Linked DNA regions of Homo sapiens: regions 2 and 3 are each linked to region 1. Evidence: fine-mapped expression QTL. A gene starts in region 1. Each other region holds a variant in brackets. All regions are shown on one strand. Distances are from middle to middle.

Region 1 (8,045 bases):
GCAGCCCTTCTAGAGCTGGGGTATAGAAAACTGAACAAAACTCTGCTCCCGTTCTCAGGACACTCCGAGCCCAGCAGAGAAGACCTGCACGTACTGGAGCACTTCTGACAATGAGAAGGTCTGCAACATCAGCCACCGTTAGGAATAAGCAGAATTTTGATAGCTGCAGATAGGGACACAGAGCCACTGACTCCCACCAGTAAACAGAAGGAGGGATAAAAGGGCAAAGTCGCTGGGCACAGTGGCCCACGCCTGTAATTCCAGCACTTTGGGAGGCCGAGGCGGGCGGATCACCTGAGGTCAGGAGTTCAAGACCAGCCTGGCCAACATTGTGAAACCCCGCCTCTACTAAAAATACAAAAATTAGCCGGGCGTGGTGGCATGCGCCTGTAAGCTCAGCTACTCAAGAGGCTGAGGCAGGAGAATCGCTTGAACCTGGGAGGCGGTGGTTGCAGTGAGCAAAGATCGTGCCATTGCACTCCAGCCTGGGAGGCAGAGCAAGACTCCATCTCAAAAAAAAAAAGAAAAAAAAAAAAAGGGCAAGGTCAGGTGTATTGAGAAAGTCCAGTCTAACGGGAGGCCAAGGAATGAGCGGAAGATGGAACCAGAAAGGCGGACAGTGCAGGGGGCCTTGAACATAGTGCTGCAGGGTTTATAGTGTGTCCTGGGGGCGAGGGAAGCCACGGTTAGTTTTAAGTGTGAGAGTCACAGCATCAAGGAGGAGAAAATTGGCCCTAAAATTAATCTGGGTATAGAATGAGCTGTAGATAAGAATTCTAGAACCAAGTGGAAGTGTCTAAGGAAAGAATAGGTAAGTATCTGGCCCCCTTCTTTCCAGATTAGAAGGCCTATGTGTCTATAAAGTTCAGCCACTGTCACTAGGCTCCCTGGTTAACTCTTAACTAATAAACCTTTCTGTCAGGGCCAGCAACTTTAATTAAAATGGAGTTCTCCTCTACCAATGCCTGTCTAACCTGTCACTAAAACTTCAAAGCAGGGAGTAAAAATAATTATTAGTCTAGTGTGTTATATCGTAAAATACAGACAGAGTGCATTTAAATTTCAAAGTGCTTAGAAAACTGGCTGGGCATGGTGGCTCACGCCTGTAATCCCAGCACTTTGGGAGGCCGAGGCAGGCAGATCACCTGAGGTCAGAAGTTCGAGTCCAGCCTGGCCAACGTGGTAAAACCCTGTGTCTACTAAAAATATAAAAATTAGCCGGGCATGGTGGTGGGCACCTATAATCCCAGCCACTCGGGAGGCTGAGGCTGGAGAATCTCTTGAACCTGGGAGGCAGAGGTTGTAGTGAGCCGAGATCGCACCATTGCATGCCAGCCTGGGTGACAAGAGCGAAACTCTCAAAAAAAAGTGCTTAGAAGACAATGAATCAATCCTCAAAAACTTGTATTACTGAGAAGTTAAAGAATGTTTTTAGTCCAGAAAAACAAAGTCTACAAATCCATGTCCTTTCCTTCCACTTCAAAAGCAAGGTTGGGGGCCACATGCAATGGCTCACGCCTGTAATTCCAACACTTTGGGAGGTGAAGGCAGATGGATTGCTTGACCTAAGGACTTCAAGACCAGCCTGGCCAATATGGCGAAACCCTGTCTCTACTAAAAATACAAAAATTAGCCAGGCGTAGTGGAATGTACCTATAATCCCAGCTACTTGAGAGGCTGAGGCAGGAGAATCGCTTGAACCTGGAAGGCGGAGGTTGCAGTGAGCCGAGATCGCGCCACTGCACTCCAGCCTGGACAACAGAGCGTGACTCTGTCACAGAAAAAAAAAAAAAACAAAAACATGGTTGGGGCCAGGCGTAGAGAGTCACGCCTATAATTCCAACACTTTAAGAAGCTGAGCTGGGAAGACTACTTGAGGCCAGGAGTTCAAGACCAGCCTGAGCAACATAGAAGGATCCCATCTCTATTTTTTTTTTTTTTTTTTTTGAGACAGAGTCTCGCTCTGTCGCCCAGGCTGGAGTGCAGTGGCGCCATCTTGGCTCACTGCAAGCTCTGCCTCCCAGTCTCACGCCATTCTCCCGCCTCAGCCTCCCGAGTAGCTGGGACTACATGAGCCCCCCCCCACCACGCCCAGCTAATTTTTTTTTGTATTTTTAGTAGAGACGGGGTTTCACCGTGTTAGCCAGGATGGTTAGGATCTTCTGAATTCGCGATCTGCCCGCCTCGGCCTCCCAAAGTGCTGGGATTACAGGCGTGAGCCACCACGCCCGGCCTCATCTCTATTTTTAAAATAAAAAATGTTGGGCACTGTGGCTCATGCATGCAATCCAGCACTTTGGGAAGCCAAGGTGAGAGCATCGCTTGAGGTCAGGAGTTTGAAACCAGCATGGTCAACACAGCAAGACCCTGTCTCTATAAAAAAAGAACTTGGGATAGTGAGTGTAGAACAGAGATGTCTTAAGAAAATGCAACAGCTGACTTCAAACACATAAAAAGCATTCGGAAGACTAGCCTTTCTCAGCCTTTTGTTTCGTTTGTTTGTTTGTTTGTTACAGACAGAGTCTCACTACAATGCCCAGGCTGGTCTCAAACTCCTGACCTCAAGCAATCCTCCCACCTCAGCCTCCCAGAGTGCTGGGATTACAGGTGTGAACCACTGTGCCTGGCCCCTTTCTCAACCTTTTGTAAGCCGAGGGTAGAAGAAGGGCCAGTATCCAGCAGAAGTTTCCACCAGAACTGTTTGTAGGAAATAAAGGGGGCATAAGTGGAGATATCCCAGAAGTACAATCAACCTGGCAGGATGTGGTCAGGGTGAAAAAAGGGAGGGGACCCCCACCAACAGGAGGTCTGCAAATAAATTGTGGCCCAATGATTCCACCATTCTTCCTCTGCCTTCCCTACAGGGCTAGCACAGCCAACAGCCCTTACTGGACACTCAATACATAACTTGCTGAACAAGTCAAGTCGTTAAGTGGAACAGACCAGAAACACAGGAGAGAACCTTGATTCATCTTGCCCCTCACCCCCACATTCCACCAGCAAGTATGGTCAGCTCTGCTTTCAAAATATATCTCCACCCAGACCACTACACACCACCACCACTGCTGTCCCATCCATGCCACCATCATCTCCTGACCTCTTTTTGCTAATCTCCCTGCTTCACTCTTACCCATCCCCAACCAGTGTATTCTCAACATCAAAGATAGAATAACATTAAAAATTGGCCGAGCACAGTGGCTCAAGCCTGTAATCCCTGCACTTTGGGAGGCAGAAGCGAGAGGATCACTTGAAGTCAGGAGTTCAAGACCAGCCTGGGAAACAGAGCAAAACCCTGTCTCTAAAAATCATATATATATCCCTCCCTGTGTAATTTCCCATGACCCTAACCCTAACCCTAATCCTGCACTTAGTACAAGATCCAAACTCTTTACCCTACCAAGTAAGATCCAGCCCCTGTCAGCCCCTCTGACATTCTTTTCTACCTGTCTCCCCCGCTGTCATCTGCTGCAACCATACCCGTCCTGCCTGCCCCTCAATTTCCTAAACTGGCTCCCACTTCAGGGCCTTTGCCACTTTATGTTCCTTCTGCCTGAAATGCTTTCCCTCCAGATTTGCTCATGGTTGTTTTCTTCCTCGGTTTCAAGTCTGAGCTCAAACGTCCTCTCTCGGGGAAGACACTGCCTGAGCACCCCCCGCTCTCACACTAGCTATTCCGTCATTTTCTTGTTTCTATCTCGCCGCCCCCTTGTTCGGCCACGCTTGTGTCTCCCGTCCCTGTAAACCTCTCTCTGTCGCTGCAGAAGGTGAGCACCCCGAGAGCGCGGCTAACGCCTCCCTCGTCGCCGTGTTCCCAGCGCTGGGAACGATCTAACAATGGTCCAGCACCGACTTGTGCTTTTGTGGCCCGAATCCTGGGCCCTTGGCCTGTTTTCCACAGGCTCCGCCGGCCCACGCGGCCCGCACCTTCTTCCAGAGGCTCCAGCCCGGTCCCATAGCTGACCAGATCTTCTTCGCTGTCACTGTCCCGCGCCGCCATCCTGCTCTTCCGGGCCCCGCCCCCTCGCTACGGCGGCCTTGGCAGGCCAAACGCCTTTCCTCTTTCTCCTCCGCGAACCCCGGTGATGCTGGAAGGCTGGGTCCGCGGGCGGGGGAAGGTGTCCTAGCGGCCCGAGCCTGCGCTCCGGATTCTCAGGCCCATCCTGTGGTAGGCCGTCCCAGGCAGGAGTTGCCTCGGAGGATTTGGCAGCCACGACATCCCATCCTAGCCCCGCGATGTGCGGGTGAGGAGGAGACTCCTGGCATAAGCTGGAAGCCACCCAACTGTTCCCTGCGAGGCGACACCGATGCCTGCCCAGCCCCCTACCCCCGTCCCTCGCGCCAGCCCCCTGCCTTGGCAGCAGTCACTGCCCAGCCCCGTCCACTCCCACCGCCCACCCAGCCACCTCCAGGGAAATGGCTGAGCTCCCAGATTTCATGCTCGCCCCGTGGGGCTTCGCTTTATTTTTATTATTATTATTTTTTACTTTTATTTTGGGTTCAGGGGTACATGTGCAAGTTTGTTATATAGGTAAATTGCATGTCGCAAGGGATTTGGGTTACAGATTATTTCCTCCCCAGGTAATAAGCATAGTACCCAATAGGTAGTTTTTCCGATCCTCACCCTCCTCGTACCTTCCACCCTCAAGTAGGTCCACCCTCAAGTAGGCCCTGGTGTTATTCCCTTTTTTTTTTTTTTTTTTTTTGAGACAGAGTCTCGCTCTGTCGCCCAGGCTGGAGTGCAGTGGCCGCGATCTCAGCTCACTGCAACCTCCGCCTCCCAGATTCAAGTGATTCTCCTGCCTCAGCCTCCTGATAGCTGGGATTATAAGCGTCCACCCCACCACGCCCTGCTAAATTTTTGTTTGTTTGGTTGGTTGGTTGTTGTGGTGGTTTTTTTTTTTTTTTTCTTGAGACAGAGTTTCACTCTTGTTGCCCAGGCTGGAGTGCAATGGCACGATCTCGGCTCACCTCAACCTCCGCCTCCCGGGTTCAAGCGATTCTCCTGCCTCAGCCTCCCTAGTAGGTGGGATTACAGGCATGCACCACTATGTCTGGCTAATTTTGTAATTTTTTTTTTAGTAGAGACGGGGTTTGTCCATGTTGGTCAGGCTGGTCTCGAACTCCCCACCTCAGGCGATCCATCCACCTTGGCCTCCCAAAGTGCTGGGATTACAGATGTGAGCCACCGCACCCGGCCATTTTTTTTTTTTTTTTTTTTTTTTTTTGTATTTTTAGTAGAGACTGGGTTTCACCATGTTGGCCAGGCTGGTCTTGAACTCCTGACCTCAAGTGATCCACCCGCCTCGGCCTCCCAAAATGCTGGTATTACAGGCGTGAGCCACTGCGCCTGGCACCTGTCATTCCCTTCTTTATGTCCATGTGTGCTCAATGTTTAGCTCCCACTTATACGTGAGAACATGCAGTATTTGGTTTTCTGTTCCTGCATTAGTTTGTTTAGGATAATGGCCTCCAGCTGCATCTATGTTGCTGCAAAGGACATGGTCTTGTTGTTTCTTTTTTTTTTTTTTTTTGAGACGGAGTTCGCTCTGTCCCCCAGGCACGCCATTCTCTTGCCTCAGCCTCCCGAGTAGCTGGCACTACAGGCGCCTGCCACCACACCCAGCTAATTTTTTGTATTTTTAGTAGAGGCGGGGTTTCACCGTGTTAACCAGGATGGTCTCGATCTCCTGACCTCGTGATCCGCCCATCTTAGCCTCCCAAAGTGCTGGGATTACAGGCATGAGCCACCACGCCTGGCCAGTCTTGTTCTTTTTTTATGGCTGTGTAGTGTTCCATGGTGTATGTGGACCATATTTTCTTTATCCAGTCCACCATTTGTGGGCATGTAGGTTGGTTCCATGTCTCTGCTATTGTGAGTAGTGCCTCAATGAATATATGCATGCATTTGTCTTTATGGTAGAACAACTTATATTCCTTTGGGTATATACCCAGTAATGGGATTGCTGGGTCTAATGGTAGTTCTGTTTTAAGTTCTTCAGGAAATCTCCCAACTGCTTTCCAGTTGTAATTGTAATTTAATTGTAATTTTCTTTTTTTTTTTTTTTTTTAGTTTATTTTCTTTGTCTAGACAGAGTCTCACTCTGTTGCCCAAGCTGGAGTGCAATGGTGCGATCTCGTCTCACTGCAACCTCCAACTCCTGGGTTCAAGCGATTCTCCTGCCTCAGCCTCCTGAGTAGCTGGGACTACAGGCGTGCGCCACCACACCTGGCTAATTTTTGTATTTTTTTAGTAGAGACGGGGTTTCGCAATGTTGGCAAGGCTGGTCTCAAACTTCTCACCTCAGGTGATCCACCCACCTCAGCCTCCCAAAGTGCTGGGATTATAGGCATGAGCCACCTTGCTCATAGATCCTCTATAGACAGAGGATCTCTGTCTATAGAGACCCTGTCTCTAAGGGGAAAAAAAAAATAAAAAAGATATGAAGCAATTAGCCAGGTTTAGTGACAGTACTTGGGAGGGTGAAACAGGAGGATCACTTGAGCCCAGGAATCAGAGGCCAGCCTGAGCAACATAGCAAGACCCTGTCTCTAACAACAGCAACAAAAAGATATGGGATAATTCATTAACAGCAATACGTAATCAGAAAAACCTATAACCTGTGACAATACTATGAGTATTTTAAACTCCCCATGAGTTATCTGCAACATATGTTGATAAATGAGTTGTGGAATTAAATAATTCAAACTTAAAGCTGTTGGAACTTTATTGTTGATATTATTATTTTTTAGAGGCAGGGTTGGTGTGCAGTGATGCAATCATAGCTCACTGCAGCCTCAAACTACTGGGCTGAGGCAATCCTCCAGCCTCAACATCCCTGGTACTGGGACTACAGGCACCAGCCACCACGCCCAGCTGCTGTTGGAATTGTAAATGATCCTGAAACTTGAGAGGAATGTGGTTATGCAGCATGAATCACATGGCGAGCAGCTGTACCTTCTGCCCCTTTTACCCTAGAAATAACTAAGACCAAACAGGGCAGAGATAAGACTTCCTCAGACGGGTACACCCCTCACAGAGTAATAAAGCAATCTTCCTTGGAAGGTAGCATCCTATAGCTAGTCAAGTCACTGTAAGGATTGTATGTCTCTGCCTATATAAGTGAAACCGTAACTTCTCCACTTTGGAATGCTTTTTTTGTGTGTTTTTGCTTTCGTTTTTGAGACAATATCTCATTTTGACACCCAGGCTGGAGTGCAGTGGCAGGATCATGGCTCACTGCAGCCTTCCTCTCACCTCAGCCTCCCAAGTAGCTGGGACTACTAGTTGACAACGCTCAACTAATTATTTTATTTTTTGTAGAGACCAGGTCTCACTGTGTTGCTAAGGCTGGTCTCAAACTCCTGGGCTCAAGTGATCCTCCCACCTCAGCCTCCCACAGTGTTGGGATTATAGGCGTGAGCCATCGTGCCTGGGCTCCCCTTTGGAATGTTGACCCTATACATTTGGAATTGGTGTTTCTGGGTGGCTATCCTCAAGCTTTGGAATGTTTGAGGATAAATAAACATAGTAAACTATACTTAATCAGGGTGGGTGCAGTGGCGCACGCCTGTAATCCCAGCACTTTGGGAGGCCGAGGCAAGTGGATCATCTGAGATCAGGAGTTTGAGACCAGCCTGGCCAACACGGTGAGACCCTGTCTCTACCAAATGTACAAAAATTGGCCAGGTGTGGTGCCTCATGCCTGTAGTCCCAGCTACTTGGGAGGCTGAGGCATGAGAATCAGTTGAACCTGAGAGATAGAATTTGCAGTGAGTCAAGATTGTGCCACTGCACTCCAGTCTGGGCGACAAAGACTCTGTCTCAAAAAAAAAAAAAAAAAAAGAAAGTAAAGAAAGTTGGGCGAAGTGGCTCAAGTCCATAATCCCAGCACTTTGGGAGGCCATGTAAGGAGGATCACTTGAGCCCAGGAGTTCAAGACCAGCCTGGGTAACATGCCAAAACTACCTCTACAAAAAATACAAAGATTAGCCAGGCATAGTGGTGCGTGTCTGTAGTCCCAGCTACTCCAGAGGCTGATATGGGA
Region 2 (8,045 bases), 110 kb after region 1:
TTGTTCAATATTTTTGTGGAAACAGGGATCTTGCTATGTTCCTATGGTGGTCTTGAGCTCCTTAGCCTCCTAAAGTGTTGGTATCACAGGCGTGAGCCACTGTGCCCGGCGTTAACAATCTTCTGCCCCAGGGTCGGCCACAGTTGGACAGGAGCACCCTGCCTCCCCTGTAGCATTCGTCCCCGTGCCCGGAGTTAACTCCTGGACGACGTACACCTGCTGCACTGCTGGATATAGCCATTCTTCATTTTTCCCTCCTCCACCCACCATGTACACCCCATCAGCAAGTCCCATCCGATATACCCACTACATACATCTGCCAGCTGTTCCCATCTCCACCCACACCCCGGCCTCCAGCATCTGTCTGGACTGCTGCGGCAGATCCTCACTGGTTTCTCTGCTTCCACTCTCGCCCTTCCCCTAGGTCCATTCTCCACGTAGCAGCCAAGGGGATTCTTATATTTATTTATTATTTAATTTAGTTTTAGAGACAGGGTCTTGTCCTGATGCCCAGGCTGGAGTACAGTGGCATGATCATAGCTCACTGTGGCTTCAACCTCTTGGGTTCAAGTGATCCTCCTGCCTCAGGCTCCTGAGTAGCTGGGACTACAGGTGTGCACCACCACACCTAGGTATTTTTTATTTATTTTATTTTTTGCCTCACACTCTGCCAAGTCTCAATGCCTGGCTAATTTTAAAAATTATTTTGTAGAGGCCACGTGAGGTGGCTCTCACCTGTAATCCAGCACTTTGGGAGGCTGAGGCAGGCGGATCATTTGAGGTCAGGAGTTCAAGATTAGCCTGGCCAACATGGTGAAAACCCATCTCTACTAAAAATACAAAAATTAGCGGGCGTGGTGGTGGGCACCTGTAATCCCAGCTACACGGGAGGTTGAGGTGGGATAATCGCTTAAACCCGAGAGGCAGAGGTTGCAGTGAGCCAAGATTGTGCCACTGCACTCCAGCCTGGGCGACAAAGCTAGACTCTGCCTCAAAAAAACATAATTTTTTTTTTTTGGTAGAGATGGGGTCTGGGTATGCTGCCCAGGCTGGTCTTAAACCTTGGCTCAAGCAATCCTCTCACCTTGGCCTCCAGAGTGTTGGGATTACAGGTGTGAGCCACTGCATCTGGCTTGAGTTTTTATTTAAAGCCCCAAACATTAATGAGTCCCTGCTGTGTGCTGATACCCACAACTGACAGCTTATGGCCACACGGTCTGTAGGATAGACAAGCCCATAAATAATTCTGTACACAATGGTAAAACAAGAACTGCTGTTGATGTGTGTACCAGAAGGGCAGTGACGTCAGCCTGGAGAGTTGGCCTGGGCCTGGCAGGGAGTAAGGAAAGAATTCTGGGTGCAGAAGACAGCAAATACCAAGGCCTAAAAAAGAATGAATTATTTGCTGTTTGGGAAATGGAAGCCCACGCTGAGTGCTGAAGCACAGGGACTCTGCGCAGGAAGAGGAGGGGAAGCAAGAAATGAATTTGGGTCCTTGTGATGGCAGTGGCTGCTGCCATCACGCTGTGTGGCTAGGGCTGCACACTTCATGGAGCCGGTGGAAGCCCCGTCCCTCATGAGTTGGGACTGGAGCCGCAAACCGCTGCTGCAGACCCAGGCCTTCTGCTCTATGGAGCAGGCAGGAGCCCCACCCTCTTGGGCAGGGCTACAGCCACCCAAACTGCAGCTGTGGATCCGAGCCTCTCTGCTCCTGGGGGAGCCGGGAACAGGCAGAATTTGCCCTTCCAGATGCAGCTGCAGCCGCGCAGGCAGGAGCCAGGGACAAGTGGGAGCCCTGCCTCTTCCAAGTTGGCGGGGTGGGAGCTCCCAGGTGCAGCTGTGGCTGCCCCCCCAGGCACAGGACGAGGGCATCTCTGTAGCCTGCACCATCGGCCATCCCAGGAAGGACAGCCCCCTTCACCCTCCATCCCTGCAGGCTCAGGGGTGTCTGCTTCCACTGCCTGGCCTCTCTCCACTCCAGCAACTGCTCTGATCTTGGAGGGGAGTCGGAGCCAAGACCTGCAGCCATGAATGGCAGCAGGAGGAAGGGGGTGGGGTCCCCAGTAAGGCCCCACCCTCAGGCCAGGGAGGGCCTGAATTCTGGGGGCTGGGCTGCCAGTCCCTCTGACCAGAGTGGAAACTCGTGGAGCCTTTTCTGGGCCTGCCAATGGCCCAATCAGCACACACTTCTTCCCCGCTGAGGTCCATAAAAACCCTGGGCTCAGCCAGAGCAGCGCAGAGAATAGCCAGAGGATGAAGATGGTAGAGACGAGGGGACAGGATGACCAGCTGCAGAGAGCAGTACCCTCTCTGCTGATAGCTGGAGACGGTGGGGTGACCAGCTACAGAGAGGAGTACCTTCTCCGCTGAAAGCTACAGAGACCACCTGCCAGCAGAGAGGAGCTACACTCTGCTGCGAGCTTCAGAGACCTGCAGAGACATTGGAATGACTTGCCTGCGGAGAGGAGCCACTCTCTCCAGGGCCTCCTCTCTGTTGAGAGCTGAATGGTTGAGCTCATGGGACAATCTGTCTCCAGAGAGGAGCTACCCACTCCTCTGAGCTCTTCTAACACTAAATAAAACTCCTCTTCACCCTTCACTTGTCTGTGTACCTCATTCTTCCTGGATGCAGGACAAGAACTCAGGCAAAGGCACTGTGGCCACAGAGGTTCCGGCCAGAAAAATCGACACCCCAAAAATCCCATAACACTTGGTAGGAACCAACCTATATCAGCCTGATAAGCCATGCTGGACATTTGCCTGCCGTTGAGAGAGTGGTGCTGCCCATGAGGGTTTTTATGCCCAGTAGAGACAGGATTGATGAGGGGACCATAGTTAGGAATGATTGTGATGGTATGAGGGGGGATTCACTCTTTAAAAAAAAAAAATCTTATGCAGCCTTTTTGGAGGACCTGCTGGACGCCAGCCCTTGGGATTCAAAGGTTAAGAAAACCTTTTCTGGCCAGGTGCAGTGGTTCACACATGTAATCCCAGTATTTTGGGAGGCCAAGGCAGGCGGATTGCCTGAGGTCAGGAGTTTGAGACCACCCTGGCCAACATGGTAAAACCCCATCTCTACCAAAATACAAAAATTAGCTAGGCATGTTGGCACATGACTGTGGTCCTAGCTACTTGGGAGGCTGAGGCATGAGAATAGCTTGAACCCAGGAGGTGGAGGTTGCAGTGAGCCAAGATCGTGCCACCGCACTCCAGCCTGGGTGACAGAC[A/C]AGACTGTCTCCAAAACAAGCAAACAAACAAAAACCATTTCTTGTCGTGTAGCAGGTGGTGGAGGGGGGCAGGGTGGAAACATGGAAACTGTGGAATCACTTGACAAATACAGGGTGGCAGGTGCCACACAGAGGTAAACAGAGTGGGGGTATTGGGTAGAGACTGCTTGGAGCTTCTGCTCCTGTGGGTGGCTGTGCAAGTCGGTGGTGGGGGCTGTAGGAGATGACTGGAAGGTGTGCCCATCCCTCACTCCTGAAAGATGCCCCCACTCTGTGCCACCCTTCCCAGCCTTGTGTCTCGTGCTGACCACTACCTAACATTCCTGGGGCCACTGTCAGTGGGTGCTCCTCACTAGGCCTTGGGATTTCCTCCATCTGCTCTGGAAGCCCTTCCCATGGGAATTGTCCCCACCATGCCCCCAAGCCCCACCCTCGAAGATGCCTCTAGTCTAGCAAAACGGAGAATCGTGCTTATGATTTCCGAGCACTGCAACCAATGTCTTGCTCCATTCCTTTGTTCATGCCGTTCCCTCTTCCTAGAATGCTGTTCCGTCACATTTCCAAATGTGGGACCAGTGGGCATCTCTGAAAGCCCAGTCTAAACGCCTGTGTGATTTTCTCGAAGGAAAGCATTTGAAATTCCCAGGCTGGCCCCAGACCTGGAGGAATCTTCCCTCCCTGCCCACCCCAGCACTTTGTGCTAATTACTGGCTTCAAATAGAAAACAATAGTGTTTTTATCCCACATCTCATTGATGCTCTTTTTTTTTTTTTTCATTTTTAGTGAGAGCCTTTCTCCCGGCTCATTCCATAATTCTATGTTCTGTAATAATTATTTGGGTGTTTTTCCTCCCTTCTCACCACTTTGGGGATGAAGACAAGGTTTCTTCATTGCTGTCATGGTGTTTTGCCTCTAGTAGGTGTGAATGAATGGCTCGTGCCAAGAAAATGATTGGACTAGACCCAGAAACGTCTCAGAGACTCCCAGTTACAGTTACCTAAAGCGGAGCTCTCTGACTTTCATTGTGTATAGGAGCTAGTTTTCATTACTCTCGTCTTGGAGATAAGCCACCTAAAAGCTTATATTAAGCCCCTATGAGGTGTGAGGCAATGTGCTCAATGCTAGAGTTCCAGGATTGATAAAGATAAGAGAGTGGGCCAGGTGCAGCACTCGCACCTATAATCCCAACACTTTGGGAAGCTGAGGTGGGAGGATCACTTGAAGCTAGAAGTTCGAGACCAGTCTGGGCAATGTAGTGAGATCCTGTCTCTACAAAAAAATACAAAAATTACCTAGGCATGGTGGTGAACATCTGTAGTCCCGTCTACTCGTGTGGCTGAAGCGGGAGTTTGAGGCTGCGGTGAGCTATGATCGTACCACTGCACTCCACTCTGGGCAACAGAGCAAGACCCCATCTCAAAAACAAAACAAAGCGAAAAACAATAAGGATATCACTTGCTTCTCAGGAAGTCGCCCTGCTCTGCAGGGGGAGCCACATGAGACATCACTGGGGGGAGTGCTGTGGGACACATGGAAGAGCTAGAGGGTGACTCTTGGGGACAGCCAGGGAAGCTCTGAGGAGGGAAGGACAAGAGGGCCACACAATGAGCAGCTATCATGATGCTCCTTGGCTGTGTGCACTTGTCTGGCCTGATGGGGACTGGGGATGGCAGGGGAGGAGTGGGCTTCTGATGGGTTTGGATCCATGGGTGGCCAGTGCAGGTGTCCCCTTGCAGGCCCAGGGAGAGTGGTGACAAGACTCAGGTGATCCAGTGACCCAACCCAGTGACTTCTGTTGGATTTCATTTGTGCAGAAACACATCATCCATGGCCTTTTACCTGCAGCCAGCGTTGCTCCGAAGGCAGCTGTGCCACGCACACCTCCTCCCCGCAGCCCCAACCCATCTCCAGAGAGACCAAGGTGAGTATCAGATGAGCAGGCACTGAGGTCACCCCTGTGCTCAGCCTCCAAGTACTGGATCCTGGAACTGCTCAAACTGCCCAGAAAAGTATAAGTAGGGTGGTTAGAATCATGTCCTTCAAAATGTTTACCACGATTCCATAATGATGCAATTAATATGGTGTCTCTGAGGATAATGGACTGACTTGAGGTCTCTCCTTTTCAGGTGCATGAACTTCTCACATTTCATGATTGAATGCAATGAGTATTTAAAAAAAAATGTAAAGCATTAAAGCCCAAGTATTCAGGTTAACAGGGAATTTTGAATTATACACATAATTTTCTTTCTTTTTTTTTTCCTTCGAAACGGAGTCTTGTTCTGTTGCCCAGGCTGGAGTGCAGTGGCGCAATCTTGGCTCACTGCAGCCTCCACCTCCCAGGTTCAAGCAATTCTCCTGCCTCAGCCTCCGGAGTAGCTGGGATTACAGGCACATGCCACCACGCCTAGCTAATTTTTGTATTTTTAGTAGAGATGGGGCTTCACCATGTTGGCCAGACTGGTCTCAAACTCCTGACCTCTTTCTTAATCCGCCTGCCTTGGCCTCTGAAAGTGCTGGGATTACAGGCATCAACCTCCGCACCCAGCCCATTTTCTTTTTTTTTTTTAATTATTAATTTTTTTTTCAAGGCAAGATCTTGCTCTGTTGCCCAGGCTGGAGTGCAGTGGTGCAATCATGGCTCACTGCAGCCTCCACCTCCCAGGCTCAATCAGTTCTCCCATCTCAGCCCGCCGGGTAGCTGGGACTACAGGCATGTACCACCATGCCCAACTAATTTTTCTATTTTTTATAGAGATAGGGTTTTGCCATGTTTCCCAGGCTGAAATCCTGGGCTCAAGCAATCCACCTGCCTCTGCCTCCCAAAGTGCCTGGGATTACAGACGTGAGCCACTGTGCCTGGCCAAAACAAAAAGTTTTTTCGAGATATGGTCTCATTCTGTTGCCCAGGCTGGAGTGCATTGGTGCGAACGTGACTCACTGCAGCCTCAACCCCCTAGCATCAAGCGATCCTCCTGTCTCAGCGTCCTGAGTAGCTGGGACTACAGGTACACACCACCATGCCTGGCTAATTTTTTAAATTTTCTGCAGAGATGGAGGTCTCACTATGTTGCCCAAGTTGGTCTTGAACTCCTAGGGTAAACTGATCCTGGGAGGCTGAGGCAGGAGAATTGCTTGTGCCCAGGAGTTTAAGATCAGCCTGGGCAACATAGCAAATCCTTATCTATAGCAAAAATCAAAAGAAAATAAATTATCTGAGCATGATGGTGCATGTCTGCAATCCCAGATACTCGGGAGGCTAAGGCTGGAAGATCACTTGAGCCCAAGAGGAAAAGGCTGCGGTGAGCTATGATCATGTCACTGCACTGCAGCCTGAGCAACAGTGAGGCTGTTGTGAGTGAGGCCCTGCCTCTAAAAAAGTTTATTTTAAAAAGATAATTAATAGGGTAGCTCCTGAAAAAGAAAAAAAGATAATAAATATATCTATCATTCTGACAAGGGTCCTCATGCTCCTTTGTAATTCCTTCCCCCTGCCCCTCTCTGCCACCTTTCATGCTCCTGTTCATCCCCAGGCAACCTCTCATCTCCTTTCTCACACTATGGATTAGCTTGTATTTTCTAGAATTTTATATAAGTGGAGTTACATAAAATACACTGCCTTCCTTCACTCAGCATGATTATTCTGATTAACGCGTGTTCCGAAAGTCAATAATTCATCCTTTTCCTTACTGAGTAGTATTTCATTATATGAATATGCCACAGTTTGTTTATCCATTCTCCTGTTGATGGATATTTAGTTTGTTTCTAATTTTTGGTTACTAGAAAAAGGCTGCTGTAAACATTTACACACTGGCTGAGTGTGGTGGCTCATGCCTATAATCCCAGCAATTTGGGAGGCTAAGGCAGGCAGATCACCTGAGCTTAGTAGTTTGAGACCAGCCTGGTCAACACGGTGAAAACCTATCTCCACTAAAAATACAAAAATTAGCTGGGTGTGGTGGTGCACTCCTGTAGTCCCAGCTACTGGGGAGGCTGAGGCACGAGAATCGCCTGAACCTGGAGGCAGAGGTTGCAGTGAGCCCAGATCGCACCACTGTACTCTAGCCTGGGCAACAAAGCGAGACTTATATCTCAAAAAAAAAAAAATGTATACACAAATGTTTGGATACATACTTTCATTTCTCGGGTAAATATCTATAACTGGGCCTTATACTAGGCAGGTATTTAATTTATTAAGGAACTGTCAAACTATTTTCCAAGGTCATTGTCCCATTTATGTTCCCACCAACAGTATATGAGTCCAGTTGCTTCATATTCTCACCAACACTTGGTTTGGTCAGAGTGTGTGTGTGTGTGTGTGTGTGTGTGTGTGTGTGTGTGTTCATGTGCATGCGTGTGAGTGCGTGTGTGTGTGTGTGTGTGTGTGTGTGGTCTTTTATAACTTGGACAGTCAGTGGTTAGTTTTCATCCACATTGACTGTAGGTTTTTGAAAGTGGTGACAGTTGCATAGCTAACCAATGTACAGAGCTTGTTTGATCAATCTTCATCTTCATTACGCTTTCTGGACAGTGGTACACAGATAGGGTGAGGGATATTCCTTACTCCTTTGTCTGAGACAGCTTTGTTGAGCCCGGCATCAATGCACACATCTCGAGTTCCTAGCTCTTTCATGGAAAATTTCCAGATCTCTTTGTGTATGCCAGGGGCAGTGTCTTAAAGCACACTCCATAGGTGTGCTCATGAGTGCTGATAGTGTGCTTTCTGGTCACAACCTTGTTGACGACAGAACAACCCTTCTTATTGCCCTCCTTTGTGGAATCCATTCTCATAGGCCCAGTTTAGAATAAAAGAGCACAAGG
Region 3 (8,045 bases), 40 kb after region 1:
AGAAACAGGGTTTCACCATGTTGGCCAGGCTGGTCTTGAACTCCTGACTTCAGGTGATCCACCCGCCTTGGCCTTCCAAAGTTCTGGGATTACAGGCATGAGCCACAGTGCCTAGCTCAGACCTTGTCTCTAAAATAAATTACATAAATAAAATAGATGAGAAGGAAAGACCAATTCACAGTGGCTGTTTTGCAATTGTGTTGTTATGAGCGACTTTTCTTTATACTTTTCAATATTTTCTATGTAGATGCTTTGTTTTCAGAAAAGATTATTTTTAAAGTTAAACATTTTCCATTATATTAAACCCTGTCATCATTTTTAGAGTGGCCGACCTCTGAAGGGGCATCTCTTATTTTTCCTCAGGGCTGTAATCCCCTTGCACAAACCGGCCGGAGTAAATTGCAGAATCAAAGAGCTGCTTTGAATCAGCAGATCCTGAAAGCCGTGCGGATGAGGACCGGAGCGGAAAACCTTCTGAAGTAGGTGTCTTCTGGCTTCCCTGCCTCTCCTGAGTCCTAGTCATCTGTTCCCTAAACTCCCAGGCCAGGCTCTTGGTTTCAGCTTTGGGTTTCCTCCTCATTTCTGGCATCTGGAGTCGTCCCTTTCTTGCCTATAGCTTGGTTATGTTGAAAACAGATATTTTACCCCGCCTGTTTGTGTGTTTGGGGATTGGGTGGGTGGGAGATAGATGCAGACGGTGTGGCATTTGGCTTCAATTCAGTCAGCCATCTTGATGGGAAGCCCAATTTTTGTCTCGAGGTTTGTTTTCTGGCTTTCTCTGGGACTTGTCTATTTTCTCCACTGCCTGACACTATGCCTGGTGCAGAATTTGCTTGGTAAATGTTTATTGAATATATAAAGGAAAGAAAAGCAGAAAGGAAGGAGAGGGGATATTTCTATTGCCAGTGTCCACCTTGCTAATGAGAGGGCTCAGTACACCCCCGTGATCTAGGGCACTCATTAGTATGCTCTCGTGGTAAAACAGTTACTTACCCAGCATAGAACTCAGAGAAGCCTTACCTGTGTCTAGACCTCTATAAACCCTCTCCAGGCAACGAAATGCAACAAAAGACAATGTGCCAGCACTCTGTTTACAAAGAGTGCAGAGTTTCTTCTTCCTTCAGAGTTCTACTGGAGACCATGGTTAGCCCCGTGCCGCCTTGTTTTTTGTTTGTTTGGAGACAGTCTTGCTCTGTCGCCCAGGCTAGAGTGCAGTGGCGTGATCTCGGCTCACTGCAACCTGTGTCTCCTGGGTTCAAGTGATTCTCCTGCCTCAGCCTCCCCAGTAGCTGGGACCACAGGCATGCACCACCATGCTTGGCTAATTTTTTGTCTTTTTAGTAGAGACGGGGTTTCACCATGTTGGCCAGCCTGGTCTTGAACGCCTGGCCTCAAGTGATCCGTCTGCCTCCACCTCGCAAAGTGCTGGAATTACAGGCGCGAGCTACTGCGTCTGGCGTCATGCCACCTTTTTTCTTTTTTTTCAGATGGAGTTTCGCTCTTGTTGCCCAGGCTGGAGTGCAATGTGCAATCACAGCTCACTGTAGCCCCCAACCTCCTGGGCTCTTCAAGCAATCCTCCTAACAGCCTACTGAGTAGCTGGGACCACAGGCATGCACCACCATGCCCGACTAATTTTTTTTTTTTTTGAGACGGAGTCTTGCTCTGTCACCCAGGCTAGAGTGCAGTGGCGTGATCTTGGCTCACTGCAACTTCTGCTTCCCAGGTTCAAGTGATTCTCCTGCCTCAGCCTCCTCAGTAGCTGGGATTACAGGTGCCCGCCACCGTGCCCGGCTCATTTTTGTATTTTTAGTAGAGACGAGGTTTCACCAACTTGGCCAGGCTGGTCTCGAACTCCTGACCTCGTGATCCACCCGCCTCAGCCTCCCAAAGTGCTGGGATTACAGGCGTGAGCCACTGTGCCTGGCCAATGCCCGACTGATTTTTTAAAAATTATTTGTAGAGACAGGGTCTTGCTGTGTTGCCCAGGTTGTTCTCGAACTGTTGTCCTCAAGTGATCCTCCTGCCTTGGTCTCCCAGAGTGCTGGGATTACAAACATGAGCCACTGTGCCTGGCCTGTGTTGCTTTTGTTACTCACGGAATACCTGATGACTTGAGGTCCTGGGTGGGAAGTTTGTCTGGGAATCTCTTCTCCAGCTCCTTTTGCAACTGGGTGCAAAGCAGGTTGTTACTGGAGGAGGCTGGGAAAAATACTGTAGCGTTTTGGCTTTTAAAAAGTCAAGCAGTGTCCCTATCCCAAGACAAGTTTGGACATGGGAATTGTCCACTCCCATAGCAGAGAGCAACTCATGTCATCTGTGTGACGTGAGAGAGGCCCCCGATTTTGGGACTCCCTGTCATGTGCTGGGAAGGCCGTGGTATGTTTTGTGGCCTAGGGTTCTGGTTGACCCTTGGACAGGCCTGCTCTGTGGCCAAGGGGGCAGGTGGGCAGCCTTGATGGTGTATGGCTTTCCTAGGAGTGGACAACAATTGATTTACCTATTCATGGATTCATTGAGCACCTTTTTTTTTTTTTTGAGATGGAGTTTCACTCTTGTTGCCCAGGCTGGAATGCAATGGCTCAATCTTGGCTCACTGCAACCTCTGCCTCCCATGTTCAAGTGGTTCTCCTGCCTCAGCCTCCCAAATAGCTGGGACTACAGGCACGTGCCAGCACACCTGGCTAATTGAATTTTTTAAAGTTTTAGTAGAGACAGGGTTTCACCGTGTTGCACAGGCTTGTCTCAAAGTCTTGGCCTCAAGTGATCCTCCTGCCTCAGCCTCCCAGAGTGCTGGGATTTCAGGAGTGAGCCCCTGTGCCTGGCTATTGAGCACCTGTTAAGTGGCAGGCACAGTTGAGGTGCCTGAAGATCAGGCGAGGCTCTGCTTTTGTGATTTCTCTTGTTGGAGGATGGGAGGAGACTTTTATAGACAAGTAAACAAATCAGATCACCTAGGGAAGTGATGTTTTCTAGGGAATAATGAACTCTGAATATCATAGAGGTTGGCCCAGGATGGCCAGCCTTAGAGACAGAGGGTGGTCAGAGAGGCCCCTGTGAGCAGGGAACTTGGACTTTCTCAGGCAGGAACTAGGGCAGTTTTGTGTGCCTTGTTCTCTTAACGACAACAGCAGTCACCCTTTCTGAGGCCCGAGCCTGACTCAAGCTCATTGTTAAACTGGCAGTGGTTGGGTTGGCAGGGGCAGGAGTGGGGGGTTGTTAATGATTCTCACAGTGGCCTAAAGGTTCAAAGTACCCCTTGCTGGAGAATGTTGTCAGAGGAAACCCTGAAGGTATTTATTAATCTGACTCAACAAGCACCAACGGTTTCCCGAAAACAAATAGGGCATTTTGCCAAGCTCCGCTCTGGCCCCTCAGTGTCCCTGGGCGACCCATTACGTGGCTGTCTCTGCAGGCCATGGGTGGTTTCAGTTGTAAATTAGGCCCTGCTTTCCTTCTGTTTGTCTTCTGGTTCCCAGGTTTCCTACCGCAGCCCCCAAAGGAA[A/G]GTAGATCTGTTGGAATAGGGGTGGGGGATGTTTGGAGGTGTCCCCAGAAATGCAGGAATGGAAATGGGGGTGCTAAGCCCTTATCTGAGGACTGTCAGAGGGTATCGTGGCTAGGCAGGCACTTGAAAAACCAGATTTTATGATCCTTCAAAGTCTTCCCCTTCTCTGATCCATTCCAGCTGGGAGTCCATGAGCTTCCTGGAGTTTTTTTAGGAAGCCATCAAATATTTCAAATGCACTTTTTTCAGGTTTGTTTGTTTTTTTTGAGACAGAGTCTCATTCTGTCTCCCAGGATGGAGTGCAGTGTCGAGATACCAGCTCACCTGCGCAACCTCCACCTCCTGGATTCAAGTGATTCTTGTGCCTCAGCCTCCCGAGTAGCTGGGATTATAGGCATGTGCCACCATGCCTGGCTAAATTTTATACTTTTAGTAAGACAGGGTTTCACGGTGTTGGCCAGGCTGGTCTGGAACTCCTGACCTCAGGTGATCTGCCTGCCTCAGCCTCCCAAAGTGCTGGAATTACAGGTGTAAGCCACCATGCCTGACCGTACTTTTTCATTTAGGCCAACCAGAGACAATATTCTGTCTTCTCCCAGCTTCCCTCCCTTGAGAAAAGCTAGGGTAGAAATATGATGAAGTTTATCTGAAATTGAGGCAGTCCTTGTGAAATTTAAAGCAGGGCCGGTGAGCACTGTGGCTCACTTCTGTAATTCCAGCATTTTGGGAGGCCGAGGTGGGCGAATCACAAGGTCAAGAGATCGAGACCATCCTGGCCAACATGGTGAAACCCCATCTCTAAAACTAAAAATAAAAAAATTAGCCGGGTGTGGTGGCACGTGCCCGTAATCCCAGCTACTCGGGAGGCTGAGGCAGGAGAATGGCGTGAACCTGGGAGGCAGTGCTTGCAGTGAGCTGAGATCGCGCTACTGCACTCCAGCCAGGGCCACAGAGCAAGACTCCGTCTCAAAAAAAAAAAAAAAAAAAAAAAGGCAGGTTGCCTAGTTTTAACTAGTTTTAGCTAACTAGTTCTTTGATTCTTTGAACAAGAGCAGGTCATTTAACCTCTCTGGGCTTCAGGTTCCCCTGTTGTGCTGAGAGTTGTTGGGCTAGATCAGAAGTGACCTGCTCCGAGGTTTACAGGGATCAGGTGGGCTTTAAATGAGTGAATGGGGCTGGATTCTGTGCTGTGAGACAACAGGGAGTGGTGGGGACTGTGGTGAAGTGCACAGCATATGCCCTGTCTGGATGAGGCAACTGCAGTTTGCCTCATGGAGGGTAGGGCCAGAGTTGCTGTATCTTCTAATTTTTTTTTTTTCCAGGAGAAGTTAGGAATTTTTTTTTGTTTTTAATCTGATTGTTGAATTTTTTTTTTTTTTCTTTTTGAGACAGAGTCTTGCTCTGTCACCCAGGCTGGAGTGCAGTGGCGTGATCTTAGCTCACTGCAACCTCTGCCTCCCAGGTTCATGTGATTCTCCTGCCTCAGCCTCCTGAGTAGCTGGGACTACAAGCATGCGCCATCATACCCGGCTAATTTTTGTATTTTTAGTAGAGACGAGGTTTTGCCATGTTGGCCAAGCTGATCTCAAACTCCTGACCTCAAGTGATCTGTCTGCCTCAGCCTCCCAAAGTGCTGGGATTACAGGCATGACCCACTGTGCCTGGCCGATTGTTGAATTTTTAAGTTTTGGGGACTCGTTTCAGAGGGGGGATAGTAACATCCTGAGAGCCAGGTGAACAAGTCCCTCGGGCCTTCAGTTTAGTTTGTGACCTCTGGACGGGGGTGATGAAATTCTGGGTCAGGAGTGACGTGAGGTGGCCTTGGCTGTCATGAGAGTGACTTGAGGTTGATGACAGCTCACACCGTCAGTTGTGGGAGGGCTGGTGTGTGTCTGTGGTGGGGTTTGCAGGCCCTCCATAGCCTTTGGGGCTGACATCAACATCAAGGCCCACCTTCCTCCATTGAGAGACAGGCTGGGAGCAGATGTCCTGCCGGTCTGGCTGATCAGCCACCTCAGCAGGGGATGGGACAGTCCTCGCTCCAGCCTCCTGAAACCCTGGCAGAGCGGGATTTGGGATCAGATGGACTAAGGCTAAGCTGCTCTAATAAGGTCGCTGAAGCTGCGGCAAGTCACTATGTCAATGTGGTGCTTATTCCTGGAAGGATAGTTTTATTAAAAGACTTGGGAGAAAAATAATTACACTAAAACAAATGGGGACAGAATGCAACATACACATGTATTACTTTAAAAAAAAAACTTTTTAGACCAGGCGTGGTGGCTCAAGTCTGTAATCACAGCACTTTGGGAGGCTGAAGCGGGCAAATCATTTGAGGTCAGGAGTTTGAGGCCAGCCTGGCCAACATGGTTAAACCTTGTCTCTACTAAAAATACAAAAATTAGCCACGCGTGGTGGCACACATCTGTAATCCCAGCTACTCGGGAGGCTGAGGCTGGAGAATCCCCTGAGCCCAGGAGTTCGAGGTTGCAGTGAGCCGAGATCGCGCCATTGCACTCCAGCCTGGGTGACAGAGTGAGACCCTGTCTCTTAACAAAAAGAAAAGAAAATTAGCTGGGTGTGGTGGTGTGCGCCTGTAATCCCAGCTACTTGGGAGGCTGAGGCAGGAGAATTGCTTGAACCAGGGGGACGGAGGTTGTAATGAGCTGCAATCATGCCATTGCACTCCAGCCTGGGTGACAGAGCGAGACTCCGTCTCAAAATAAATAAATACATAAATAATAAATAAATAAAATTTTTATATTTATTCATTTTGAGGCTGGGTCTTGCTGTGTTGCCCAACCTGGAGTTCAGTGGTATGATCACAGCTCACTGCAGCCTCAACCTTCTGGGCTCAAGCTGTCCTCCCGCCTCAGCCTCCACAGGTGTGTACCACCATAGTAGGCTAATTTTTTTTTTTTTTTGAGATGGAGTCTCGCTCTGTTGCCTCCTGGGTTCAAGCGATTCTCCTGCCTCAGCCTCCCTAGTAGCTGAGATTACAGGCACGCACCCCCATGCCCAGCTAATTTTTGTATTTTTAATAGAGAGGGGGTTCACCATGTTGTCCAGGCTGTTCTCAAACTCCTGACCTCAAGTGATCCGCCCACTCGGCCTCCAAAAGTGCTGGGATTACAGACATGAGCCACCACACCTGACTGGCATTCGGCTAATTTTAAAAATTTTTTTGTAGAGACTGGGTCTCCCTATGATGCTCAGGCTGGTCTCAAACTCCAGGGCTCAAGCAATCCTCGTGCCTAGGCCTCCCAGAGTGCTGCGATGACAGCTGTGAGCCACCATGCCTATTTATTTATTTTTTGAGAGGAGGTCTCACTCTGTTGCCCACACTGAGTGTAGCAGTGCAATCCTAGTGTGTCCGGAATTGGTGGGTTCTTGGTCTCACTGACTTCAAGAATGAAGCGACGGACCCTCGCGGTGTTACAGTGCTTAAATGCAGCGTGTCTGGAGTTTGTTCCCTCTGATGTTCGGATGTGTTTGGAGTTTCTTCCTTCTGGTGGGTTTGTGGTCTCGCTGGCTCAGGAGCGAAGCTGCAGACCTCTGCGGTGAGTGTTACAGCTCTTAAGGCGGCACGTCTGGAGTTGTTCGTCTGGAGTTGTTCCTTCCTCCCGGTGGGTTTGTGGTCTCGCTGGCTTCAGGAGTGAAGCTGCAGACCTTCGCAGTGAGTGTTACAGCTCATAAAGGCAGTGTGGACCCAAAGAGTGAGCAGCAGCAAGATTTATTGCAAAGAGTGAAAGAACAAAGCTTCCACAGTGTGGAAAGGGACCAGAGCAGGTTGCTACTGCTGGCTCAGGCAGCCTGCTTTTATTCTCTTAACTGGCCCCACCCACATCCTGCTGATTGGTAGAGCCCAGTGGTCTGTTTTGACAGGGTGCTGATTGGTGCATTTACAGTCCCTGAGCTAGACACAAAGGTTCTCCATGTCCCCACCAGATGAGCTAGATACAGATTGTCAACACAAAGGTTCTCCAAGTCACCACCAGAGTAGCTAGATACAGTGTTGATTGGTGCATTCACAAACCCTGAGCTAGACACAGGGTGCTGATTGGTGTGTTTACAAACCTTGAGCTAGATACAGAGTGCCGATCGGTGTATTTACAATCCCTTAGCTAGACATAAAGGTTCTCCACGTCCCCACCAGACTCAGGAGCCCAGCTGGCTTCACCCAGTGGATCCCACACCAGGGCCGCAGGTGGAGCTGCCTGCCAGTCCGGCGCCCTGCGCCCGCACTCGTCAGCCCTTGGGTGGTCGGTCGATAGGACTGGGTGCCGTGGAGCAGGGGGCGGCGCTCGTCGGGGAGGCTCGGGCTACACAGGAGCCCACAGAGGGTGGCGGGGGGGCTCAGGCATGGCGGGCTACAGGTGCTGAGCCCTGCCCCACGGGAAGGCAGCTAAGGCCAGGCGAGAAATTGAGCACAGCAGCTGCTGGCCCAGGTGCTAAGCCCCTCACTGCCCGGGGCCAGCGGGCCGGACGTCGGCTCCTAGTGCGGGGCCCGTCCAGCCCACGCCCACCTGGAACTCGCGCTAGC

The links. PIP is the estimated chance that this variant, and not a neighbour inherited with it, causes the effect.
Region 2: its variant is the best candidate, but not a certain one, in a credible set for the expression of GPATCH1 in whole blood (GTEx, PIP 0.56).
Region 3: its variant is the best candidate, but not a certain one, in a credible set for the expression of GPATCH1 in whole blood (TOPMed, PIP 0.79).

Annotation. Positions count from the first base shown.
Region 1 is chr19:33,077,146-33,085,190 of GRCh38, reverse strand. It overlaps GPATCH1 (G-patch domain containing 1), which reads right to left and starts at 4,010. Exons shown (of 20, transcript NM_018025.3): 1 at 3,925-4,010. The coding sequence starts at 3,997. RefSeq lists a cis regulatory region at 1,594 and enhancers at 1,510-1,679, 1,650-2,150, 3,786-4,115.
Region 2 is chr19:32,963,463-32,971,507 of GRCh38, reverse strand. It overlaps CEP89 (centrosomal protein 89), which reads left to right. Exons shown (of 19, transcript NM_032816.5): 2 at 5,042-5,148. It also overlaps the pseudogene RPL31P60. Among named protein-coding and RNA genes, the nearest start is that of CEP89, 4.5 kb to the left of the region's middle. The variant A/C (reference allele first, on the strand shown) is at 3,228.
Region 3 is chr19:33,036,683-33,044,727 of GRCh38, reverse strand. It overlaps RHPN2 (rhophilin Rho GTPase binding protein 2), which reads left to right. Exons shown (of 15, transcript NM_033103.5): 2 at 364-479. Among named protein-coding and RNA genes, the nearest start is that of RHPN2, 24 kb to the left of the region's middle. RefSeq lists enhancers at 858-1,408, 2,594-3,095, 3,227-3,371 and a cis regulatory region at 3,293-3,306. The variant A/G (reference allele first, on the strand shown) is at 3,506.